7 linked regions of the Homo sapiens genome follow. The protein of the gene in region 1 interacts with the protein of each later gene in a pairwise test. Each region holds a gene or a part of one and is shown in the gene's direction. Other genes may lie near its edges.

Evidence for each region.
Region 2: the proteins of SYCE1L (region 1) and CALN1 interact in a two-hybrid assay, tested with the Homo sapiens proteins (one large-scale study listed by BioGRID).
Region 3: the proteins of SYCE1L (region 1) and CYTH4 interact in a two-hybrid assay, tested with the Homo sapiens proteins (one large-scale study listed by BioGRID).
Region 4: the proteins of SYCE1L (region 1) and ODF1 interact in a two-hybrid assay, tested with the Homo sapiens proteins (one large-scale study listed by BioGRID).
Region 5: the proteins of SYCE1L (region 1) and TNNI1 interact in a two-hybrid assay, tested with the Homo sapiens proteins (one large-scale study listed by BioGRID).
Region 6: the proteins of SYCE1L (region 1) and LCA5L interact in a two-hybrid assay, tested with the Homo sapiens proteins (one large-scale study listed by BioGRID).
Region 7: the proteins of SYCE1L (region 1) and SRSF10 interact in a two-hybrid assay, tested with the Homo sapiens proteins (one large-scale study listed by BioGRID).

What each region holds. Positions count from the first base shown.
Region 1 is NC_000016.10:77,211,562-77,213,715, forward strand, and holds the end of SYCE1L (synaptonemal complex central element protein 1-like), read left to right. Parts: intron 1-25; exon of another isoform or gene 26-370; intron 371-467; exon of another isoform or gene 468-568; coding exon 569-638; intron 639-720; coding exon 721-808; intron 809-1,012; coding exon 1,013-1,085; intron 1,086-1,295; coding exon 1,296-1,370; 3' UTR 1,371-1,654; downstream 1,655-2,154. UniProt on the Homo sapiens protein: May be involved in meiosis.
Region 2 is NC_000007.14:72,101,339-72,104,838, reverse strand, and holds part of CALN1 (calcium-binding protein 8), read left to right. Parts: intron 1-3,500. UniProt on the Homo sapiens protein: Negatively regulates Golgi-to-plasma membrane trafficking by interacting with PI4KB and inhibiting its activity. May play a role in the physiology of neurons and is potentially important in memory and learning.
Region 3 is NC_000022.11:37,299,508-37,303,007, forward strand, and holds part of CYTH4 (cytohesin-4), read left to right. Parts: intron 1-1,399; coding exon 1,400-1,512; intron 1,513-3,500. UniProt on the Homo sapiens protein: Promotes guanine-nucleotide exchange on ARF1 and ARF5. Promotes the activation of ARF factors through replacement of GDP with GTP.
Region 4 is NC_000008.11:102,558,054-102,561,518, forward strand, and holds the end of ODF1 (outer dense fiber protein 1), read left to right. Parts: intron 1-2,398; coding exon 2,399-2,831; 3' UTR 2,832-2,965; downstream 2,966-3,465.
Region 5 is NC_000001.11:201,415,231-201,418,730, reverse strand, and holds part of TNNI1 (troponin I, slow skeletal muscle), read left to right. Parts: intron 1-918; 5' UTR 919-937; coding exon 938-948; intron 949-1,611; coding exon 1,612-1,615; intron 1,616-3,476; coding exon 3,477-3,500. UniProt on the Homo sapiens protein: Troponin I is the inhibitory subunit of troponin, the thin filament regulatory complex which confers calcium-sensitivity to striated muscle actomyosin ATPase activity.
Region 6 is NC_000021.9:39,442,979-39,447,259, reverse strand, and holds the start of LCA5L (lebercilin-like protein), read left to right. Parts: upstream 1-1,481; 5' UTR 1,482-1,535; exon of another isoform or gene 1,536-1,810; intron 1,811-2,514; exon of another isoform or gene 2,515-2,616; intron 2,617-3,058; 5' UTR 3,059-3,125; intron 3,126-4,281.
Region 7 is NC_000001.11:23,963,847-23,967,087, reverse strand, and holds the end of SRSF10 (serine/arginine-rich splicing factor 10), read left to right. Parts: 3' UTR 1-2,741; downstream 2,742-3,241. UniProt on the Homo sapiens protein: Splicing factor that in its dephosphorylated form acts as a general repressor of pre-mRNA splicing. Seems to interfere with the U1 snRNP 5'-splice recognition of SNRNP70. Required for splicing repression in M-phase cells and after heat shock.

The sequences.
Region 1 (2,154 bases):
AATGGCAGCCCAGGGAAAGCCATGGTCAGGTCATTCCTTCATTTAGCTAATGTCAGTGGTTGCACCGGTCAGCATTTGAGGCAGGGAGGGAGGGTAGCAGATCAAAGAGTCCACGTCTTTGCTGTCCCAAGCTGGTTGGGGACGGTGGAGGCACCAAGAAAGTTAGTGGCTAGATCGTGGAACTTCAGTGGGAAGGCCTCTAAGCAAGTGACATCTCAACGCAGAGGTGAAGGAAGTGAGGGAAGAAGCCGTGCAGGTATCGGTGCAGAAGGAAGGCCCTGGGGCTGGACGGTGCCTGAAACCGTTGAGGAGCCGCAGATTGGGGAATGGAGGATGAGGAGAGTGGGAAGAGTTCAAGTTTGAGAGGTGCCTGGAGACATGGAGAGCGTTTAGGGGGAGGTGGGTGGGTCTCCAGCCACAGCAGGAACTGCACATTGAGTTAATAAATAGTTGAATGAATGAATGACCTAATGTAGGTGAAGACTTCGCGAGAAGCACAAAAGGGGAGGGGCGGGCCGTGTAGCCAAGAGGACGGCCAAACGGGGAGGCCTCCTCTTTGTCCTCGCAGATGCTGGAGCAGCGACTGGCCCGGGAGATCCGTGCCCTGGAGAGAAGCAAGGAGCAGCTGCTCTCGGAGAGTGAGCCTCCCGCGCCAGGTGGGCGGGGGGAGGGGGATGTGCCCGGGCCTCGGCCCTGCCCCTGACGCCCGCCCACCGACAGGGAGGCTGGTGCGCGCCAAGCTGCGGGAGGTGGAGCGGCGGCTGCACTCGCCGCCTGAGGTCGAGGGCGCCATGGCGGTGAATGACGGGTGAGAGGGGAAGGGAGGAGTGGGCGAGGAGGGCAGGGGCAGGGCGGAGGGGAACCCGCCCAGGTCCCCCGCTCCGCCCCCGACTGCCGCTTCCCCGGCCTGTGCCTCCCTCGGCGTCGTCGGGTCTCCGCGTCTCGGTGGCTTCCTCCTCGTCCCCTGGACTCTCGCTCTCTTCCTCCTGTCTCCTCGGCCCCTTCTCCGCAGGCTGAAGGCGGAGCTGGAGATATTCGGGGAGCAGGTCCGGAGCGCCCCCGAGGTCGGGGCCGGCGAGGGAGAGGTAGGGAGCCCGAGGAAGGGAGGCGGGGCGGGCAGGGACCGAGTCAGGAGAGAGCGGGCGGGGGTCCTGGGAGCGGCCCCCGAGAGTGGGGTCTGTGGGGAGCAGGGCGGCCCCGGGGACAGAGGAAGCCGCGGTGGAGGCCTAGGGCAGACGCGGGCGGACGCGAGGAGCGTAGGAACCTGGTCCGCAGCCTCACCCAGCCCCCGGCAGGCCGGACCTGAGCTCCCCCGCGCTCGCGACGAGGAGGATCCCGAGCCGCCGGTGGCTGCCCCTGACGCCCTCTAGGCCAGCAGGACCCGCCCGTTCCCGACCTTCCCTCGAGACCCGCCAAGAAATAAAGGCGATGATTTCCGACCATGCTCGCGTTCTCCGCGGAGTCTGTGCTACACCGTGGAGCGGGGCGGGGCGTGCTGGGATCTCGAGGCGGGGCCTCTGCCGGACCCCTCCCACCAGTCGAGCCCCGGGCGCCGTACAGAGGCTGGGTAAATGCTCCTGAACTCAGAGAGAGTAAGTGGGTGTCAGTATCCCCCGCCCCACGGCCTCATCTCGAGTTCCCAAACCATCTATGTTGTCAACAGGGGCCGGAGGGCAGGTGTTAACCCATTCCGGTCCTCGGGGCCTGTGCGTCTCCGGTGGTCTCAGGAAACCCAGAGTCTCTGCAAGACCCGCAGACTCGCGCTGGCTCTGGGACATGCCCGCCCATCTGAGCTCCCCTCACAAATTGGGTTCTAGCCAAGGCTGCCTCTCCACCCGTCTCAAACATTCCAAAACACGTGTCCCCTCGGGGCCTTCGCCCTACTGGTCCTTCTCTGGGGTCACATCCCCCAGGCAACCTCAGATCTGTTAAATGTGTCCGCCACTCTGGAGGCCGGCATTTGGGACCCAAATCCAAAGGCACCCAGCAGCAGGCTGCGGCCATTGACTGAGCATGTACTGACTAAGCAGGCATTTGCCGATTGCCTGCTGGGTACCAGGCACTGTTCTAAGCACTGGATTTTAAACAGCGCGGTCAGCGACGGCCTCACCTAGGAAGTGGTATCTGAGCGGAGAAGCGAGGTAGAGAAGCGAG
Region 2 (3,500 bases), on another chromosome or scaffold:
ACTAGAGGCATGCACCACCACAACTGACTAATTTTTGTGTTTTTAGTAGAGACGGAGTTTCGCCATGTTGGCCAGGATGGTCTCAATCTCCTGATCTCGTGATCTGCCCACCTCGGCCTCCCAAAGTGCTGGGATTACGGGTGTGAGCCAGCGCGCCCGGCCTAAATTGTGTATTATTTTGGGTTCCAAGATACCTGTGCTTTTTCTCACTTATAAGTGGGAGTTAAATGATGAGAACACATAAACACATAGTGGGGAACAACACACTGGGGCCTGTTGGGGGTGGGGAGGGAGAGCATTGGGAAGAATAGCTAATGGGTGCTGGGCTTAATACCAAGGTGATGGGTTGATCTGTGCAGCAAACCACCATGGCACATGTTTACCTATCTAACAAACCTGCACATCCTGCACATGGACCCCAGAACTTAAAATAAAAGTTGAAGGAAAATAAAAGAACACCTTCATCACTCCAAAAAGGAATTCCACATCTCTTAGCCATCACCTCCCAATCCCCCTGTCCCTGCAAGCCCTAGGCAACCACTTTTCTACGTTGTCTGAGAGACTGGTCAATGGGTAGCAGTTGTTGGTCTCCAGACGGAGGTCCTAACCCAAGACCAGAGGGCTCATGTGTTGTATGTTCTTCTGGTGAGCTGGGGATTCTCATCTACCAGCTTGGACTTGAGGTGTTCCCTGTGGGCCAGGGTGTCTCCAGGCCATTCATTGATTCTCTGCTTCCCACAGACACACATTTCCTAGGCAACCTGGAAAACAAATCCTAGACTTAATCCTGGCCCAGTCACTGTCCCCATTCTTGCCCAGCAGACTGATGGAAGGGGATTCTAAGGAAGAAAATGGCATTATCTTCCTGCCCTACCCCACAAGCCCATATCCTGCACACTGCCTCACTACCTCTAAGTTTTTTGGGATGGTCTATCCCAAGGACACGATAACCCGCAAGCTTTGGAGCCTTCTAAGCTGGAGCTACTGTGTCATTCCCATTGTCACTTCCTTCTGTCTGGACGTTCCCATTGTCCAGATCTGTTCAGAGGCTTCACTCTCAGCCTCCTTCCCCCCCCCTCCATTTCCATCTTCTCCAAAGCTTCAGAGAAATGACCTGCAGCTTATTCTCCAGTGACAGTGGCAGTCCCCTGTCTAGTCCACGCCCTTCTTAGTAGAATCCTGTTTTTGGATTGAAGAATCCTGGGACCAGTAGCAAAAGCACCCTGTTTTCTACCCAACTCTCTGCCCCATTTGGCTCAACAATCCCAAGTTGGTTAACATCTCCAAGTAGCTACTGAAGAAATGAAGTGTTTCATTTAACACTTTCAAAGTAGCCCCATAAGTAGAGCCGTAAGATCTGGTCCTTGCCACCTGTGTCTACACTCTGAGCCTCTTTTCTTAATTCAGTAAGCAAGTACTACGCCCCTTCATATGCCATGACTGCTCCACCCAACCACCTAGACACTCTCTGCTGTACCTCACACCTGGCCAGGACCTCACTTGCTGAATGAGTCCAGAGTCATAGCTGACTAGCTTCATACCACCCTCAAACTCATTGATGGTGTCTTCCAGGATATCGATGGTCTCAATATCCAGGTGATTGGTGGGCATATCCAGGAGAGGAGTATGTAGGGGTTCTGCCAGGTCAGCCAGGCCAGGCTAGATTCAGAGATTTGTGCAACGCATACCACAGTCGATTTTAGAACATTTTCATTGCTCCAAAAAGAAACCTTGCACTTCCTTTTTTTTTTTTTTTTTTTTTTTTTTTTGACGGAGTCTCGCTCTGTCACCAGGCTGGAGTGCAGTGGCACAATCTCTGCTCACTGCAACCTCCGCTTCCCGGGTTTAAGCAATTCTCCTGCCTCAGCCTCCCAAGTAGCTGGGCCTACAGGTGCCCACCACCATGCCCAGCTAATTTTCATATTTTTAGTACAGACAGGGTTTCACCATGGTGGGCAGGATGGTCTCGATCTCTTGACCTTGTGATCCGCCTGCCTTGGCCTCCCAAAGTGCTGGAATTACAGATGTGAGCCACCACACCCAGACAAAACCTTGTACCTCTTAGCCATCACCTCTCAATCCCCATATTTCCCCAAGCCCTACACAAGCACTTCTCTATTTTCTGTCTCTATAGTTGCTTCTGCTGGACATTTTCTACTAATGGAATCATATAATTTGCCTTCCTTTGTGAGTAGCTTCTTGCACTTACTATAGTGTTTCCAAGGTTCACCTGTGTTGTAGCATTTATCATGACTTCATTTCTTTTGATGGCCATATTCCTATTCCACTGTATGGACATAACAGCTTGTTTTATGTCTATTTTCTATTTACTGAGTTTCTGCATACAACCTCACTGGAAAAAATACAACTTTGTAGTGTTTTTAAAATTTGCGACAGAGTCTCACTCTGTCTTACGCCCAGGCTGCAGTGCAGTGGCATGATCTTGGCTCACTGCAACCTCCATCTCCCAGATTGAAGCTATTCTCCTGCCTCAGCCTCCTGAGTAGCTGGGGTTACAGACGTGCGCCACCACGCCCGGCTAATTTTTGTATTTTTAGTAGAGATGGGGTTTCACCATGTTGGCCAGGCTGGTCTCGAACTCCTGAGCTCAAGTGATCCGCCTGCCTCAGCCTCCCAAAGTGCTGGGATTACAGGCATGAGCTACTGCACCCAGCCCTCGTAATGTTTAAAAAGCTTTGAAAAATGGACTGGGCACAGGAGGCGGAGGTTGCGGTGAGCCAAGATCGTGCCATTGTACTCCAGCCTGGGTGACAAAGAGTGAAACTCCATCTTAAAAATAAAATAAGCTTTGAAAAATGACTGCATTTGATAATCTTTAAGTTTCTTCCCTAGTCTAAAACCCTAGGTTTTATCCCAAACCAGCTAGATCCTGCCTTAGATAAAGGTCCAGGAAGGAGGCCTCTTTGTTTTGTTTTGTTAACACATACCCTTTCCCTCTGAAAAGCAGCTTAATTCTAGGCATCGGGCACGAGAGGACTGGGCTTTTGGCGTGCCCAGGTTGAGCATTAGATATACACCAAGAAGCAAGGACAGAGGAGATGGGCAGGAAGTCTCTTTGGAAGAACAGACCAAGGTTATGATAAGGAGATGTTTGCTTGGCCTGCAGGCCAGTTGCAAGAGCGTGGTTTTAGCCTGTTATCTTGCCGGACTTGTTGGGAGGATGATAATAAGGGTGACCATATGGTGAATGGACCCTAGGGCCAACCGCCAAGTGCAGCTGTAGACATTTATTTTCTGGTTCAGGATAGAGATGTTTTATCCAGGGTATTCAGTTGTGTGAGCGGTTCTCAGCTTGTTCTCCCAATTCTGATTGATGGTGACTCACCATGTCTTTGTAGGCCTGATTTGACGTTGCTTTATATTTTAGAGATATTTCTGAAAAGCTGGAGCAAAGCACACCTTTTACAGCAAGATCTCACTTCCAGTGACTTCCATCATTATTTCAGAGATACATTTGCAGGGAAAAAAGTTTCCTCCTT
Region 3 (3,500 bases), on another chromosome or scaffold:
ATAGCAAATACTGCCTTCTTAGTTAGAATTCTATCATGCCCATATTTAATCATTCTAATCATTATTACTTTATTATGGTCATTCTCCTACTTTTTGGATTAGTGCATGTTTTATTTATTTTATAAGACTGCTTAGCATGTATTCCAATTATTATGACTTATTAGCTTCTAATTAGGGTACTGTTTTTGGTACTCATTTTTACAACTGCAGAGGCAGTCCAATTATCAGTTTGAAGCACAAACTCTGGAGCCAGACTATACAGTTCAAATCCCAGCTCTGCTGCTCACCCCCGTGTGACCTTAAGCAAGCCATACACATGCACAAAATACAAAAATTAGCCGGGCGTGGTGGCGGGCGCCTGTAATCCCAGCTACTCGGGAGGCTGAGGCAGGAGAATCACCTGGACCTGGGAGGTGGAGGTTGTAGTGAGACAAGATCACACCACTGCACTCCAGCCTGGGCAACAGAGTGAGGCTCTGTCTCACAAAAAAATAAATAAACCTTCCTGTGCCCCAGTTTCCTCATCCGTAGAATGGGGATAATAATAGTACCAACTTCACAGGGTTGTGAAGACTAAATGGGAAAGTGTTTAAAACTGGTCCACAGTGAGTGCTTAGTAAGTCTTGATGCTGCTTGAAAACTCAGATTCCGAGAAGGAGCATCTGATCTGGGCTTTGGAGGGTGAGTAGGAGTTCACAATACAGAGAAGGAAGAAGCCACCACCATCCAGTGTTCTCTAACTCCCAGCTCTTTAAGGGAGAGGGGTAGGTGACTTGGGAGTCTCCCATATTCATTCTTTCATTCATTCATTCACATATTCATTCATTCATTCACTTATTTACTGAGCCTTTGCTAGGTGCCCAGGACTGTGTGAAGCCCAGGAGGAGAAGTGAGAGATACAGGCCCAGTTCTCACCTTCAGAGAACTTAGCTTGAAGCTGTCGAAACCACCAACTTCCAGAGCTAGAGGGAAGTCGAGGTTCCAAGAAAGGGAGCCCTAGCAAGGCAAAACCCCTGCCCCACCTCTTCCCCAACTAGGTCCCACAGCCAGATCTCAGGGCCCAAAGGCCAGGTGCGGGGAGCCACAGACCCCGGGGCAGGCAGAGGCCGTCCCCCTTCCCAGCTGAGGCAGACTGGGCTGCAGTCAGTGCTGGGATTCAGACCTGCAGAGCGGGGCGTGTGCTTAGTTCCGTATTCTGCAAGAAAAGGCATTTCTTGGCTACCTCCCGCGTGCTTGGGGCTCCCTGGTGCCCATCCCACTTCCCCGTCAGCCCAGATGACAGTTGCAGATTCCCCCATTTACAGGATACAGAGACTAAACCTGGGAGAGGCAGGGCAGCTTGTCTGGGGCCCGCGAGGGCCCACCCACTCCACTGCCCGTGGCCCCGTTTCTCCCCCAGGCAGTTCCTGTGGAGCTTCCGGCTGCCGGGCGAGGCCCAGAAGATAGACCGGATGATGGAGGCCTTTGCCACTCGATACTGCCTCTGCAACCCAGGCGTCTTCCAGTCCACAGGTGCCAGGAGGGGAGTGGGACCCAGGGCTCCGGGACCCCTTCAGCATTGCCAGGCATAGATTTCACAGACCCCCTCAGGTTTCCCCCAGGTACCCAGACCCTGGCAGCCCAGACCCCTTCATGAGCCCTCACTGAGCACTGACTTCATTGCTGCTGGGTGCTTGTCTGACAGAGCTGCCTTGAGACACAGTTCTTAGGAGAGCAGTCAGGAGACGATGGCACAGGATGCTAAGGCTAAGGCAGCAGCACCCCTTTCTGAGGGCAGGAGTAAGGGAATCAGCATGTCCAAGATGGCTTCTCAGAGGCGGTGAGGTCTGAATGGGGTTTTGAAGGATGAGTAGGAGTTTTCCAGGAGGTTAAGGGGAGAAAGGGCCTTTTTGGCAGGAGTTTCAGTTGGAACAAAGGCCCAGAAACATGAAACAGCCTGGGCAGGGTGTAGGGGGCAAAAGGGGCATAGAAGGAGATACATAAAGGTCAGTCCTCCATAGCCCTCTCTCCCAGGGCTAACCCAATGCCCATGTGAAGACATCCAGAGGACAGGGTGGGCGAGGGACCATCCTGGCCTCTTCTCTGGATCTAGTTGTCATAACAACAATAACCAACCCTGTATATTGAGTAATCCCTATGCGCTGAGTGCTTTACACAGGCAAAGCCACTCAATCCTTTTTTTTTTTTTTTTTTTTTTTTTTTGAGAGAGAAAGAAAGTCTGTCTCTGTCACCCAGGCTGGAGTGCAATGGCGTGATCTCAGCTCACTGCAACCTCCGCCTCCCAGGTTCATGCAATTCTCCTGCCTCAGCCTCCCAAGTAGCTGGGATTACAGGCACCCACCACCATGCCTGGCTAATTTTTTGTATTTTTAGTAGAGACGGGGTTTCACCATGTTGGACAGGCTGGTCTCGAACTCCTGACCTCAGGTGATCCGCCCGCCTCGACCTCCCACAGTGCTGAGATTACAGGCGTGAGCCACCATGCCAAGCCAAAGTTACTCAATCCATACATCAACCGTTTGAGGTCAGTAGTCTTCTTATCCCTCCCTCACGCATGGAATATAGCTTCAGAGAGATAAAATGACTTGTCTGCGAGCACGCCGCCTCCTGGCTGTGTCCATGGACAAACCTTCCAGAACATTTGCCCTACTTTGTGGTTAGATCTTAATTTAGTGTTTGTTTGCTTGTTTATTATCTGTCACAAGTCTAAATGTCCTGCAAGGGCAGGGACCCTGTCAGACCCATCATCAGTGACTCCCAGGCCCACAGCACAGAGTATGTACTCAATAAATAGTTGTAGGTAGGAAAGAAGGCATCTTAAAGCACCAGATTTGAATCACGGTCCAATTACTTCTTAATTTTGTAATGTTGGGCATATAGCTTAACTTCCTGTGCCTCGGTTTCCTCATCTGTAAAATGGGAGTGATAACAAGACCTGCCTCATAGGATGGGCATGGGGATGTGAGAGCTTAGCACAGGGCAAGCACCAACAACGCTCGGTGCCACTGCTATCAGAGATGGAAACATTGATGTTCCAGAACAGGCAGTTACTTCAAAGATTAACCTCTGAATGTCAAGGATGGGGAAGCTGAAGGTCAGAGAGGTCAAGTACTTCCCAAGGTCAACCAGAGAGTTGAAGATGCAGCTGAACTTCCCTGGCTCTGGATCCAGGGCCCAAATACTCGACAAAAGACCTTGCCAGAGTAGCAATTACCTCCCTCCCCAGCCATCAGCCCAGCCCTCCCTCCTGAGTGCTTGAAAGTCTGAATAATGGGAGAGGCGCTGGGGCTCAGGAGGAACGCCAGCAAGATTACAGAGCAGCAGTGGCTCAGCCCTGAACAGTGCCGCTAACAATGAGTGTTCTTCTCCGAGTTCCGAGAGGCAGAGAACAGAGTGGGCAGGGGGCTGGAAGGGCTCTGCGGGGAGGAGGTCCTGAGCCGTGGCTGAGCGAGAAGGAGGATTGAAGCGGAGAGGAGGGAAGGAAGGGCAGGCCTGGCAGG
Region 4 (3,465 bases), on another chromosome or scaffold:
TCTCCTACTTCTTGTTAGTGTGGCATAGGGTACCCTGGCACACCCAGGGCAAGAAAGACAATCATGCCCCATGCCACCCCCAGGTTTCATGGGGCCAGAGGTAGAAATGGGGCTGAGGCCGGGCGCGGTGGCTCACGCCTGTAATCCCAGCACTTTGGGAGGCTGAAGTGGGCGGATCACAAGGTCAGGAGATCGAGACCATCCTGGCTAACACGGTGAAACACCTTCTCTACTAAAAATACAAAAAATAATTAGCCGAGCATGGTGGCGGGCACCTGTACTCCCAGCTACTCAGGAGGCTGAGGCAGGAGAATGGCATGAACCTGGGAGGCGGAGCTTGCAGTGAGCAGAGATCGCCTCACTGCACTCCAGCCTGGGCAACAGAGCGAGACCCCGTCTCAAAAAAAAGAAAAAAGAAAAAAAAGAAATGGGACTGAATACAGTCCTCTGGGTGTATTACACAAGTTGTTTCTGTTTGCCTCAGTGTCTTCTGGGACTGAGTTCTGTTTGATCATTTTATAATTAGCCACTAAGAGTCTTGATCTGTAACTTTCAGTACAAGGGTAGTGAGCACTCAAACTGTTATCTAATCATGTTAGGGCTTAAGTGGAAAATACAGATAAAAATCAGTACGTATAGCATGATTTCATAAGAACACATACAAAACTCTCTCTCTACATGTATATAGAACTACACACACACACACACACACAGACACATACTCACACACACACTCACATAAAGTCAAACACCAAAATGCTAAGGGTTATATGAGATTATAGGTATTTTTAAAATAGTCCATATGTTTACTTATCTGTATTTTGAGTCTTCTACAATGAACTTGTATAACTTATGTAACAAAAAGAAGTAACTGCATAAACAAAATTCAACATACAAAAGTGATATAGTGATAATTACATCTGCATCACAGTTATTATTGTAAAGATTAAATGAAATATGCCTTTAACATGCTTAGCACCTTCCACAGCACATTGCAAAAAAAAAAAAAAGAAAAGACAAAACCTTAACATCCTATGTGCCAAGTATTATTGTAAATATTTTCTTGCATTAACTGATTTAAGCCTCACAACAACCCTATGATGTAGGCTATTTTTATTGTCCCAGTTTTACAGATGAGGAAACTGAGGCACCGAGAAGTAAGTTATCCACATGTTAGAGCCAAGCTTTAAACCTCGATACTCCAGTTCCAGAGTCTGTTCTTAGGCACTTTGCTTTACTACCTCTTGACGGATCATAACTGATCAATTAGTGTGAGCTGCTGTTGTTATTTTTATTAAGGATTTACACAATAGAATTAGTGAATAGCAACAAGGTAGGAACCACAGTAGCTCTGCAGTGAGGACAGAGGAGAGCCCTAATATGTAGCATTTTCCAATTTCCATGGTGTAAATATCCTCATCATGACTATGATTGATTTCAAGCTATCAGCGTGCAGTACTAACTGGGGATCGGGAAGAGATGTACACGATCAGCTCTTGCTAGCTGATGTGATCCTGATTATGGACACCACTGAGAGGTTGTTCTGTATCTGATCAACACGGCCCCACCCAGCTGACTGCCTTTCTGCTAGTGCTAGCTGTCCAGAGGCTAGAGTGACTTCCCAGCCTGGAGGAGCCAGGCGCTGGGCAAAAGACTTTCACACAACACCAGCCTGGGCAGAGCCAGGCCAGGGCTCTCCTGCCATCATTGTTTGATTGAGCTTTCAGGCTGTCTCTGTGCAATTGCAAGAGGTAGCACCTGTCCCATGAACCAGTAGGGCTGGGTTCGAAAGCTGACAGCCATCTCTAAAATGCAGATTTTAAGTGGTATCTTAGTTATATCCCATTTTTTAATCTATATAAATATAAAATATAATTTTTATATAATTTAATTATAGTTATATACACAATTTAATTACAGTAATAATAATGAGAGTGGTAATAATTAAGCAGGATTTATAATGTACGAAGCACAGTGCTAAGTAAAATATCATAATCTCATCTAATCCTCCAATAGCCCTATATGATGCAGGCATTATTATTGTTATCATTATTATTATCTCCATTTTGCAGATGAGGAAACTGAGGTACAGAAGGGTTAAGGAACCTACACAAGGATCAATAATAAGAGGAGGAGCTGGTATTTCAATACGAGAGAAGATTTGGAAGGGCAGGCAGCACGCATTCATTGTTAACAGCTGTGTACTTGCGGGGCAGTGTGATTCGCATGGGTGGACTCACACTTTTTACTTCATGCATTTGTGTAAAGTTTATTTTCACAATGGCTAGTATTAACTTTGGCTATTTCAAAAGCTAGAAATCAAAATATTGCTTCTCAAGCTGTGTCTGGATTCTGAGGTCTGAGCTCCCTCCCACCCTATCCCTTTTCTCAATTCCAGACTGAGAAGAACAACAAATAGAATTCTGGCTTCCTCCTGCTGTAGCAGTAACATTTTAGGATCGGTGAATGTATGCGGTTTTGAACCCGATCAAGTCAAAGTTCGAGTGAAGGATGGAAAGGTATGTGTGTCGGCTGAGCGGGAGAACAGGTACGACTGCCTTGGATCGAAAAAGTACAGCTACATGAACATCTGCAAAGAGTTCAGCTTGCCGCCCTGTGTGGATGAGAAGGATGTAACATACTCCTATGGGCTCGGCAGCTGTGTCAAGATCGAGTCTCCTTGCTACCCTTGCACTTCTCCTTGCAGCCCCTGCAGCCCCTGCAGCCCCTGCAACCCCTGCAGCCCCTGCAACCCGTGCAGCCCATATGATCCTTGCAACCCGTGTTATCCCTGTGGAAGCCGATTTTCCTGTAGGAAGATGATTTTGTAAAGTGCGCATAGGAACCCATTACTTAATAGAAGTCAGTTACTCCAGCCAGGCAGCTCTCCCAATGTTTCTCCTCTCCTTCCCATGGCCCCTGTTGTTGAAGTACGTAGGAAACTGAATACATAACTGCAATCTGCTGGTGTTGTGTGAAAGTCTTTTGGTTAAACCCACTGCAGGAGCCCTGCAGAGTTAGTGAACATTGGAATAATTAGTGGATGGCAATAGAAGGACGATATGGTGAGATCCACCCTCCCATTCCCTCCTCCATACTCAACTACCTCCAAACTCCAGGAGAAGACACTCTTCTGGTGGGCATCCCCAGACATTGTTTTCCAGATGATCCAGTGAAATGGCCTAGCCCAGAAACCAAATGGTCAAAGCAGAAACAGATTAGTTAGAGTTGAAGGAAACACTTTTTCAAAGCTACTGCAGTAGGGAGTCTGGAAAAGAGACTCCTCGAGCACAGTGGGATTGTGGTTTTACTGGACAATGATCAGGATACAAAAACTACGGGGTGGTAGGTGGGACGAGGGGCATGTTTGCTGGCCAAGGCGGGGTGGCCATACAGCTTGTCATTTTTCAACATTCTTGTGGTTTGGGGGATTGGCCAGCTCTGGTTAGTATATGGATGCCAAAC
Region 5 (3,500 bases), on another chromosome or scaffold:
TGCGGCTTATTCTCTCCCACTCAAGGCCTCCCACTGCCCCACCCTGGAGGTGCCAGTTGCATTGCCATCTGTGGATGGAGTTGTGCCATGTGGCAGCTACCCGTTTTCCAGCATCCACTCTGCTCATTCACTTTCTAGGCCTTCCTCTCTCTGAGCCCTTCAATGACCACCCTTATTCCACAGGATAAAGTCTAAACTCAGCCTGTCCTTCAAGGCCCTCATGAGTGAGCTACACTCTCACTTATTTTTTTTTTTTTTTTTTTGAGAAGGAGACTCATTCTGTTACCCAGGCTGGAGTGCAGTGGTGCGATCTCGGCTCACTGTAACCTCCGCCTCCTGGGTTCAAGCAATTCTTCTGCCTCAGCCTCCTGAGTAGCTGGGACTATAGGCGTGCACCACCATGCTGGCTAATTTTTGTATCATTAGTAGAGACGGGGTTTGACCATATTGGCCAGGCTGGTCTTGAACTCCTTACCTCATGAACTGCCCGCCTTGGCCTCCCAAAGTGCTGGGATTACAGGCATGAGCCACTGCGCCCAGCTGCTCTCACTTTCCAAACATATTTCCTATGGACTCCATTCTGTTCTCCACTGGGATTGGCAAGCTTTATCTGGAAAGGGCCAGATAGCTTTGTAGCTCACATAAGGTTTCTGTTGCAAATTCTTAAAAAAAAAAAAAAAAAAAAAGCTTACAATTCTTTAAGCAAAAACAGGCTGGGAGCCAGGTCAGGCTTATGGGCTGTAGTTAGCTGACCCCTGCCCTGCAACCCTGTCCCATCTTGACCTGCTGGAATCCAATGTGTCTGATTTCTTCCTTTTGTGTTCTGACTCTGTCTCCTAGGCTGGGCTCCCAAGGCCCAGCTGGGCAGGGGCAGGGGTTTCCACTTTCCCTTATGAATGATTCCTCTGTGCCCCCTAGGTGCTGTCTCACTGCCACCATGCCGGAAGTGTAAGTAGTCTCACTGCCATCTGGGGCCCCAGGAAGGCAAGTCCCTTTGCCACAGACTTCAGCCCCGCAGTGGAGGCACCATGTTTTCAACCCCCAAAGCTTTTCCCTAAGAGACCAGGTCCTCAAACAGGGGCAGCACTTGATGGTTTCCCCTGTGCTGCCTGTGTCCTCCCAGCCATTGAGCAGAACTCACTCCCAGGTTGCCCTGGGAGTGCCTTTTTGGCTTGTGCCTCAGAGATTTCCTGTCTTGATCTATCACATGAATTGCATGTACCAGGCCACCACTTAACACTGGTGCAGTAGGTGAACAAAGCTTTGGGAATTTACCCACGCACCCGTGGATGGATGCTTTCACGTTGCTGGAACCCTACGCTAAGGCTTCCCTCCCCTTCCACCACTTGTCCCCAACTTACGATGCCCAGTACCTCCCAATAAGAATGCCCCGTAGTTCAAAGGGCTGTTGAATTTTTATTTTATTCTGCCGGAACCTCAAACCGCTCCCCTTGCCTGATGCCTGATGACTTTCTGGCTCACTGTTGTCACTGGCCCCCTCCTCCCCCAAGCTGGTCTGTGAGGTTCTGCGACTGCACATGTAATCCTCATTGTTCATACTCACTCTGTGTTCTGCTCTTTCCCCGTCCTTCCTGTGATGGATGCCTGAAGCGAGGTAAGTGATATTTGGGGTATCTCTGTCTTGGTTAACTCTAACGACTGGTAAAAGTGGGAAGGTGGGGTTGGCATCTGAGGAGAGGGAAGAGCCTGTGTTAAGGCCTGGTGGGAGTCCAGGGGGTGTAGGGTATTTAGTGGCTGAACAAATTCCCAGGAGATGGAAACGTCAGGTGAAGATTCTGGATGTGGGGCTTCCTAGTGTCCAGGGAGTTGCTGTGCCAGTGTACCATGTCACTGGAAGGACTGGTATTGCAGCAGGGTTGGGTGTGACTCTGCATCCTTGCTGAGCACAAGCTCTTCCTCACCCACTCTGAGAGCTGGTCCAGTCCTGGGGGGACCATCCTATTCCATGCAGAGCTGATCCTGTGCAAAGCTATATTGGAAGGGTAAGGGATAGTCATTGGGTTATTCCACCCTTGCCCAATGGCTGAACATTGATTGAGGAGCAAAGAGATGTCCTTAAATCCCTCAGGTGTTAGAAAACCCTGACACTGGCCATTCTATACACTCCAGACTTACCAGGCTACTGAGATCACAGCCTATGTACAGTCCAAGGATGGGGATGGCAGGGATAGGGATGTGGGCCCAGGGATGGAAACAGTGAGAATTAGCAGTATTGATGGAGGGGATATTTGGCACAGAGATTCTCAGTAAGAATTGAACATGTTACTTTTCAACATTCATATGAATTTTTAAGTTTTGCTGAGGCTCGTATTAAAGTGAGTCCTCACTGACTGATGGTCAAATGAGGTGGCCATCGGCTCACCAAGTGGTGGGGAAATAAGATCGCAGTCAAACATTTGCCATGTGTACATTACAGTGTGTAAACCATGGTAGTAATGCTTAGAGTCATAGGCTCTTTCTTTTGAAATTGCACTTATCTGAAATGTAACAAAAATCTTTAGGAGAGGAAAAGACAAACCAACCACTCTGAACAGTCAGAATAGAAGTTACACATTCCATTTGCTGAAACTCATCCATTGTCTCTCATGAGAACTTCCCTCTCAAAGCCTAATCACTTCTACTTGACACCCTGGAATAACATTTGAGAGCCATGCTCTGCCGGCTCACAGCACATTAAGTCTAGGTAGGATGCTTCCTGCTGGCAATGAGAAGTGACCGCCTATGGCCCAGAAGATACTCTAGTGCTCGAAAGGCATCACAGTCTCATTAGTTGGGGACCAAGCAGCCCTACTACTCACCTTTGCCAACCCTGAGGGACCACTGTCACAGGGCTAGGACTAGTAAGCAAGAACATGTTTAGGATTTTTGATAAGAAGATAAAACAGTGGTTTTATATCTTAGAAAGATTTGTATGGGTGGTGTTAACATTTTTAAAAGTTTTGAGGTCTACATAGATACGTTTCATTTATTTGGGAAATTCACAGCTTATTTATGCAGCATGACGGATCATCAAGGTATTGCTGTATTACTACCTGGAGTGTGAAAACACATAGCTTTTACGATTTTCAAAGGATTTGCACATCCATGATCTCATTTCATCTGCAATAACTCTGTGAACTAAGTAAGGGGGGGGGTCCTAATATCCTTATTTACAGATGAGGAAGGAGGTGCCTGTAGAAGCCATGTGGCCCTCATAGTATCTTACAAGATTTCAGCAGCAGCAGAATCAGAGTGGGAAGTTAAGGCTTCAGCCCCTAGGTCAAGGTAGCTGACTGCAGCCTTCTCTGAACTGCAGAGGTTAAATAACAAAGATGAGCTTTTAAGGCACCGTAGGGTGAGCAGAGGATTCCGGATAAAGATAGAGAACGCTGGCTGGCACTTGTCTTGTCCTAGACCAGAATTCCAGTTCTGCAGCCTCTGCCTCACCACCTGTCTCTCTCTCTTCTTGCCCACAGAGAAAACCCAAGATCACTGCCTCC
Region 6 (4,281 bases), on another chromosome or scaffold:
CAATGGCAAAACTCCGCTCTCGTTACTGTCATGGGGCCACCACCACCCACCAAGCATCAGCCCATCTTTCCATAATGTCAAGTCTAGAGTGACATTTGTCTAATGTTTGCCTACCTGGAGATGTTGCCCCGCCCACCACCACCAGCAAAAACAACCGGCACCCATCTTATACGGATAATTCCCTACCTAAGGAGTTCTAGAAATGCATGGCCCACCAAAACTCAGGGTGGGTCATGCATTTCTAGAGGAAGAAATGGTGATATGGAGAGAAAGCTTGTCCTAACCCACTTCTACCAAAGTAGGATTAAAGTCAATTTGAAAAAAAACACCCGTTTCTCCTTTTATATAAAAACCAAATGCAGAAACTATAGAGAAATGTAATAAGCTTGACTCTACACAAATACCAAAATACACTGTAAACAAAATTAAAGGTAACTGACAAATTGAGGAAATATTTGCAACGTATATCACAAGCCAAGTTTTCAAGCATCAAAAGTCCTTACAAAACCCATTTTTACAAAGATGAATGTCAAGTTTTAAAATGGACAAAAGACAGGAAAATGCAAATCACACAATAAGGACAAATGGCACTCAAGATATGGGAAAAAGTCTATTCTTCCTACTAAAAAGGAAGTGAATACAATTAAAGATGCCAATTTTTGACAATAAAATGGGCAAAAAAATTTTAAGAAAAAAGAGAATTTCCAATGCGGGCCAAGTATCGGGACACTTACTGGAAGGCAGTTTCCCTCTACCTTTAGAAAGCCTCAAAGTGAGCATATGCTTTGGCCCTGCAACCTCGCTTGTAGGAATTTATCCTAAGGAAACAGTCAGGGGTGACCTCAAAGATTCATCTGCAAGGATATTCAACATGGCTTTGATGCAGGAAAAAAAGTAAATAAATAAAAGGAAACAATGTAAGTCTTCCTAAATTATGCCAAATTCCTATGCTGTCATTAAAAAACATCTATAACTCCATCATCTAGGTGATTTTGACTTTTGCTTTGGACTTGCCTGTACATTTCTAAATTCTCTATGCCAAACATGCATTGTTTTGTCATCAGATTTTGTTTTACAAAAAAAAAAAAAAAATCGTCTTTATGACAAGGGGTTAATAGGGGAACTGTGCTTCCCAGGAATTGACCAGGCGTCTACACCCACCTACTGACTCAAGTTACCTAAGACTGACAGAGCCTTAAGAGGTCAGGAGAGCGCCAGAGCGCGTGACAGGCTCCCTCGTCTCGGTGCGGCCACGCGGGAAGGCAGGGTCCCGGGCGCCGAACAGGGACGGCAGGAGGATCGTTTACAGACGTCTACACAAGAAACTCACTTCCCGTCACCGAAGACAAACGCGAGGCCACACTGACCTCCAGGCCCAAGACGCCCCTCCCCGCCGCGGCTCCTGCTGCCCGAGTGCGCATGCGCGCGCCCAGCCCCCGCAGGCCGGCGCTTCCCAGGAGGCCCCGCGCGCGGGTTTCCATGGGGACGCGCCGGCGCTGCGGCGTTGGCGCAGTCGTGGGAACAGCGCGGAGCAGGTAACGGCCCCGCTGCTGCCGTCGTCCCCCTCAGCCGGTTACCCTGTTACAGCCCCAGCTCTGGGCCCTTCCGGACCCTCCTGCTACGCTCTTTCTGGGCTTCCAGTATCGCCGGTCACTCAGTCCTCGCCCCTGCCTGCCTCGCTGGCGCCCCGCCGTTTCCTCCTCGCGGCACAGTTTGCCAAGGAACAGCTACCCCGGCTCGGCAGTGACCGGGCGCCCCGGCGACACACGTACTCTCAGGCCCGCTGGGCAGGGGGACGGCCTGGGCCGAGGTGACCTAGCGCTCCCGGGGCCGCGCCTGGGTCTGGCGAGGGGGCGGAGGCCGATCTCACCGCCGCCCCACCGAGGGAACTTTGGGGTTTTTCTATCTGAATCTTCTATCTGACCTCCGATTTTGCCTCTGCTTACTTGCTGTTTTGCTTTGGATTAGTTTTTCTTTCTAACCTTAGCGCTGGCATCTCCCTATCTCGTAGGAATCTAAATCTTTTGAAATGTCTTCTCTGTCTGTGTTTGTCCCCCACTCACCCAGCCTCGGGGCTCTTTATCCACACCCTCCCCTCAGCGTGTTAACGTTTCGTTGCCACACTTAAGCCAACGGTTAACTTTTTTCAGAGACCAGTTTTCACGGCTGAATGTGAGCTTGAGCCTTTTTTCTGTCTACACTCAATCCCTAGATGAACTCATCCAGTCGCCTGTACTCAGAGCCTATCTGAATTCCAGTGAGCCCCAAGTGTGCATTCCCAGCCCTCGCCCCTCCCCTGAACACCAGATCCCTGCATTTAGCTGCCTGCCACATCCCTACTTGGATGTCTACGGCATCTCAAACACAGCTCGTCCAAGATAGCGCTCAATAATTCCCCAAGCCAAGCCTGTCCTCCCACAATCTTAATCCATCATAGTTGCTGGAAATTCCATCCTCCAGTTGCCCGAGTCTTGCATCCTGTTTGAGTCCTGTTTTTCTCTTCCTCACCTTCAGTCTGTCAGCACTGCCTTCAAAATGCACCCAGAATAGATTCACAATTCTACCATTTCTCTCAACCGCCACTGTCACCACCTTGGTCCAGGCCCCCATCATCTGGTGCGTGGATTATTTTACTTGCTTCCTAATTGGTTTCCCTGAGTCTGCCCCTCCCCCACTTGAGCATGACAGTCTTAATGGTATTTCCCCGTTCTCTGTTATTTCGTATGAGTAAGTTTTTTAAAGGATTATATAAATTACAATTTCCTTATATAAATTACAACTTCCATAGGTAAAAGTGCAGTATTTTCAGTATGTATTTTGCAAATTGCAACTTTTAAACCGGGTCAGCAAGGCCATATAAGCATCCTGCTAACAAGCTAAAAATGTAAAGACACCCCTTAGCTTTGTTAGGTATAAATATGACAGTGCCCCTGGAACAGAACTATGGCAAGAGCTTTACAAGGGACTGTCCTGAAGAACAAAAGAACCCAGAGCCTTCTTCCCAGCGCAAAGACAGGAATCATGTAGGAGTTTAAGCTCTTCCTTTTTTATTTTTTAGAGAAGCACCAAAAGAGGCAAACTGAGATGCAGACAAATGATCATCCGTATGCTGATCATTTTGAATAGTAAGTACCTGGGTGCTGATACCGCGATCAATGTGACAGGTCCCTGCCCTCAAGGAGCTAAGGCCCCTAGCCAATCTCTCTTTTTTTGTTGTTTTTTTTTTTTTTAAGACAGAGCCTTACTCTGTCGGCCAGGCTGGAGTGCAGTGGCAAGATCTCGGCTCACTGCAACCTCCATCTCTGGGCTCAAGCAATTCTCCTGCCTCGGCCTGAGTAGCTGGGATTACAGGTGTACGCCACCATGCCCAGCTAATTTTTGTATTTTTAGTAGAGATGGGGTTTCACCATGTTGGCCAGGCTGGTCTCAAACTCCTGACCTCAGGTAATCTGCCTGCCTCGGCCTTCCAAAGTGCTGGGATTAAAGGCGTGAGCCACTGCGCCCGGCCCTACCCTTGCCACTCTCTTAAACTCCTAGCCCCATCTTTTCTCTTTTGCCATCAGGTAAAACCCCAATTAACCAAAGTAACAGAGTAGGATTGCCACGGTTAGCTGAGGGTCTGTAGGAGATTGCATTTCATAAATGACCATTTTCCTCAGATTTGATCTCCCACCACGCCCTTGTGCTGTCACTTCATAGAGAAGCTTGAAGCTGTCACATGGGAATCCCCTCATTCTTCAGCTCCCAAAACTGCAAGCCTTACTTATATCTGTTCCTACCTTCCTTCCTCCTCCTAACCAAGGCCACTCCCTCTCCGTGCTTTGGATCCCATCGCTTTCCACTCGCCAAAAACTCTACCCTGTCAGGTATACATTCCCTCTCCTGTATGATCACCTGTTCCATCTCAGCTGGCTCTTTGCCATGGTTTTGAAGCATGTTCAAGTCTCCCATCACAAAAGAGAAAAAAAGAATCTTCTTTGACCCCACGTTCCCCTTCAGTTTCCAGTTATTGTCCAATCCCTTATCCCTTTCGACAGGCAAACTTTAAAGAACTGCCATATTCAATGCCTCTATTATTTGTCTCTCACTCCTCAGCCAGTATGGCTTCCCTCTTCATCTCTGCTAAAACAAAAACCAGGAATGAGACTTTTTCAGGCTTTGTCTTGCTCAATCTCTCAGCGGCATCTGAAACTGCTGCCCCCATTTCACTCTACAAACACTGTCTTCCCTTGGCTTCTGTGACCATCCCTGACTCTTCTGCTTTTCCTGCTGCCATTCTGG
Region 7 (3,241 bases), on another chromosome or scaffold:
TCTTCTCACCTCTTTCCTAGTCAGTATATTCAGCAAATATTTATTGAGCCCTTACTGTGGGCAAATCATTGTACTGGATAATTGAGAAAAATAGATAATTCCCTTATTCAGTAAATGTCTACTGAGCACAATCTAGTGAATCATTACAGTATGGCCTCATTGTTTTGTTTGAGGTGTGTTATTCATAACAATATTTTACACCATTCGTATCAATGTAATTATAGAACACAATATACGATCAAGGATAAGTAATTGTGTGGTTATCTGCCATTTAAAAGTATCCAGTATTTGATCACATTATTATAAATAATGAAAAAATGATTTAATCTGTAATAAACTGGTTTATTGTGCAGTGACTGTAATATACTAGAGTTATAATAAATTGTTTACTCTGCCTCACCAAACACATGCTAGGATATAACCCCCAAAATAAGTATTTAACTTTGCATTAGGTATAAAGGAGACTGGGTGCTATAATTAGATTATTTTGAGGCAGACAGAGAGCTGTTATCCTAACTGATTTAGTATGTTCTGTAATTGAGAAAATGTTCACCAAATTATACTTTTTAGTGATTTACATGTACATTTTATAGGGGACATGTTCTGTGTATAGCGAATAAATAACTTTTATAGTATCACAAAATGTTTTGGATTCCTTAGTTTCTTATTAGGATATGATGTTTCTTTACCTATACATTGATTTCATCACATTTGATTTTTGTCATCTTTTTTGCCACATACTTAAAATTTTCCATATAAAATTAACTAAAAATCTGGAAGTGGAATTTAAGCTTTTAATTTGTAGCAATTTTGAAAATATAGCAGAGGTATATTTTCAAGGGAGGTGTGAAATGGAGGTATTATTGTTTGTATTTTATTTTAGAAATTTTGTTTGAACTTGCCCAAGATCACACAGCAAGTGTCAGATCCTAGGTTACAGCCCATAATTTTTCACTTGTTTCATCTTTTGTTACCATGTTTGTTGTTTAATCCAATGGGGAAGTGTTTTTATAGCTTTATTTTCATGGAGATAGTAACATTGATATAATGGGATCTAGAATTTACTTAGAGTCAAAGTGACTAGATTTAATTACAAAAAGTATTTTGTTGTATACCGTTATACACTCATTAACATAGGGGTTCTTATGGACAGAGGTTCTATGTATTTTTAAAAGAATATGTAGAGGCTATAGACTTTTTTGCCCTCTACCTCCCTTCTCCATTTCCTTTTGAAGTTAAGACATTTAAGGGGGAGAATTAAGGTGCATATTGAGTTGGGGTTTTGTTTAAAAAAAATTAGGTAAATACATATATAACTACAATAACAACAGTTGGTAGTTCTCTAAAATATTTAATTATGGTAAATCAGAAAAGGCCCTTTAATTTTTGCATCTGTTGAATGAATTGCTTTAGGATCTCTTCTGTGGTTGTTTCTCTCTATACTGAATGCTGTCAATATTATTGAGCACTTACTGTGCCGAACCATGTGCTTTTCAAATATTTCTATTTAATCCTAAAAACACTCCTGGGAAATGGGTATTATTCCCATTTTACAGATGAGAAAATTGTCCTTTGTAGAATACCCATCATGTGATAGCTTCTTGCATATTATGCTATTCATTTCTCACAACCTTACAAGGTAAATGGATAATGTTCCTGGATGAGAGATTAAACGTACTCGAAGATCTTATGGTTGTGTGGCTCAGAGACTCTAAGCATGGCTTTCCAAATCTCATTCTCTTGTAGAGATTTTCCATTGTATTGCATTTTGACCATGTTCCTGTTTACAAAACCTAAGATTATATTCTGAAGTATCTGTGACTTGAGTGATAGCTCAGGAATAATCTGAGGGCATTCTATTAGGAAGGAGGACTAGCAAAGCCTATAGTTAGCCTATCCTAGGCATGAACTATTCTCATTTTAGATAGGATGACTTGATAAATAGGATGAAGTGAGCAACCTGTTTGTCTTCGGTTATTGCTATCTACAAGACATTCTGCTAGTCACTGTGGAAAAGTTTCCTTCTCTTGGGTTTTTTCCTCTTCCCCTTCCTCTTAACAGTGTTGGTTATCTTTATTATGTTTCTGTGTATTTGTAACAGCTGTTTCACCCTTGTATTGCATAATGGGGATTTTTCTTGGAATAAAAAGTGAGGCATGTAAATTCATTGAGAACTAACCGTAGTTTGTAAAGAAGTAAAAGGCCTTTGTATCTAGTTTTTTGCAGATCACATTTCTTTGAATGCTGGAAAGTGAAATAAACTGGTCTAGGAGCCAAAAATAAATCTTGGGTTTTTTTAAGATTTTGCTCTTAGATTTGTAACCACCTGGGTACAACTTTTTCCTAATTTGTGTAAGAGGTTTTAGAGATGCACTCTGTCCCTCTTGCTTTACAAATTGCCTACAAGAATGCAACCAAAATACTAGAAACTGAAACTTACACAAAACCTTTCAGGTTTTTTCCTGTGTTGTAGTTCTAGGGAAGAGGATAGTTTATTAGTATTTATTTTAAGCTTAAGGATAGGTTTTGGACCTGGATTCCATCATAGTATAACTGCCATCGAAAAGAAGACAAATTGAAATTACAGCATTTACCTAAGGTTCACAGTATGGCTGACTTCAGCAGCCTTACATGGTAAGTTCTCTGTACCAGCTATTTTTGGTTCTCGCAATTGCATCGACTTGGGAAATTCCTATCACCATTCTCTATATAGGCTAACCAAAACTTTTATCAGTACCTTTCCTAAAGTATGAAGTTAGGTAATCTTCCACTCCCACTTCCATTTACTCATTTTGCTTGAGTCAAACCAAAAATCTAGTGTATTACTAGATTAGTCACTAAAAATCTAGTGTATTCAATATATACACTAGATTCAATATATAGCTTAAAAACTAACAGACACCTAGGCTGAGATTTGTCCAATACATGAAGTTCAATTCTGCAATCCTTGGCATTGTTCACAGAAATTACCCTGGAAACAAAATGAACACCCAAATGCTGGTTCTGCCTTAACTCCAAATTGTTAACTAGTTTGCATGAAAATAATACAGCTTTGCCATGGGACTAGTTGTAGCATTTTAAGGATTACTCAAACTAGTTTTAAGATGCCCTATCATTTGGAATCTGTATCAGAAAGGTGTGGTTGTGATGCTTTTCTTCTGAGGGGTCCCCTTATATACTTTTCATTTGTCAACATACTTAAAACACAAGGGTTCTTGTCAACTTGATAAATTTGCTTATA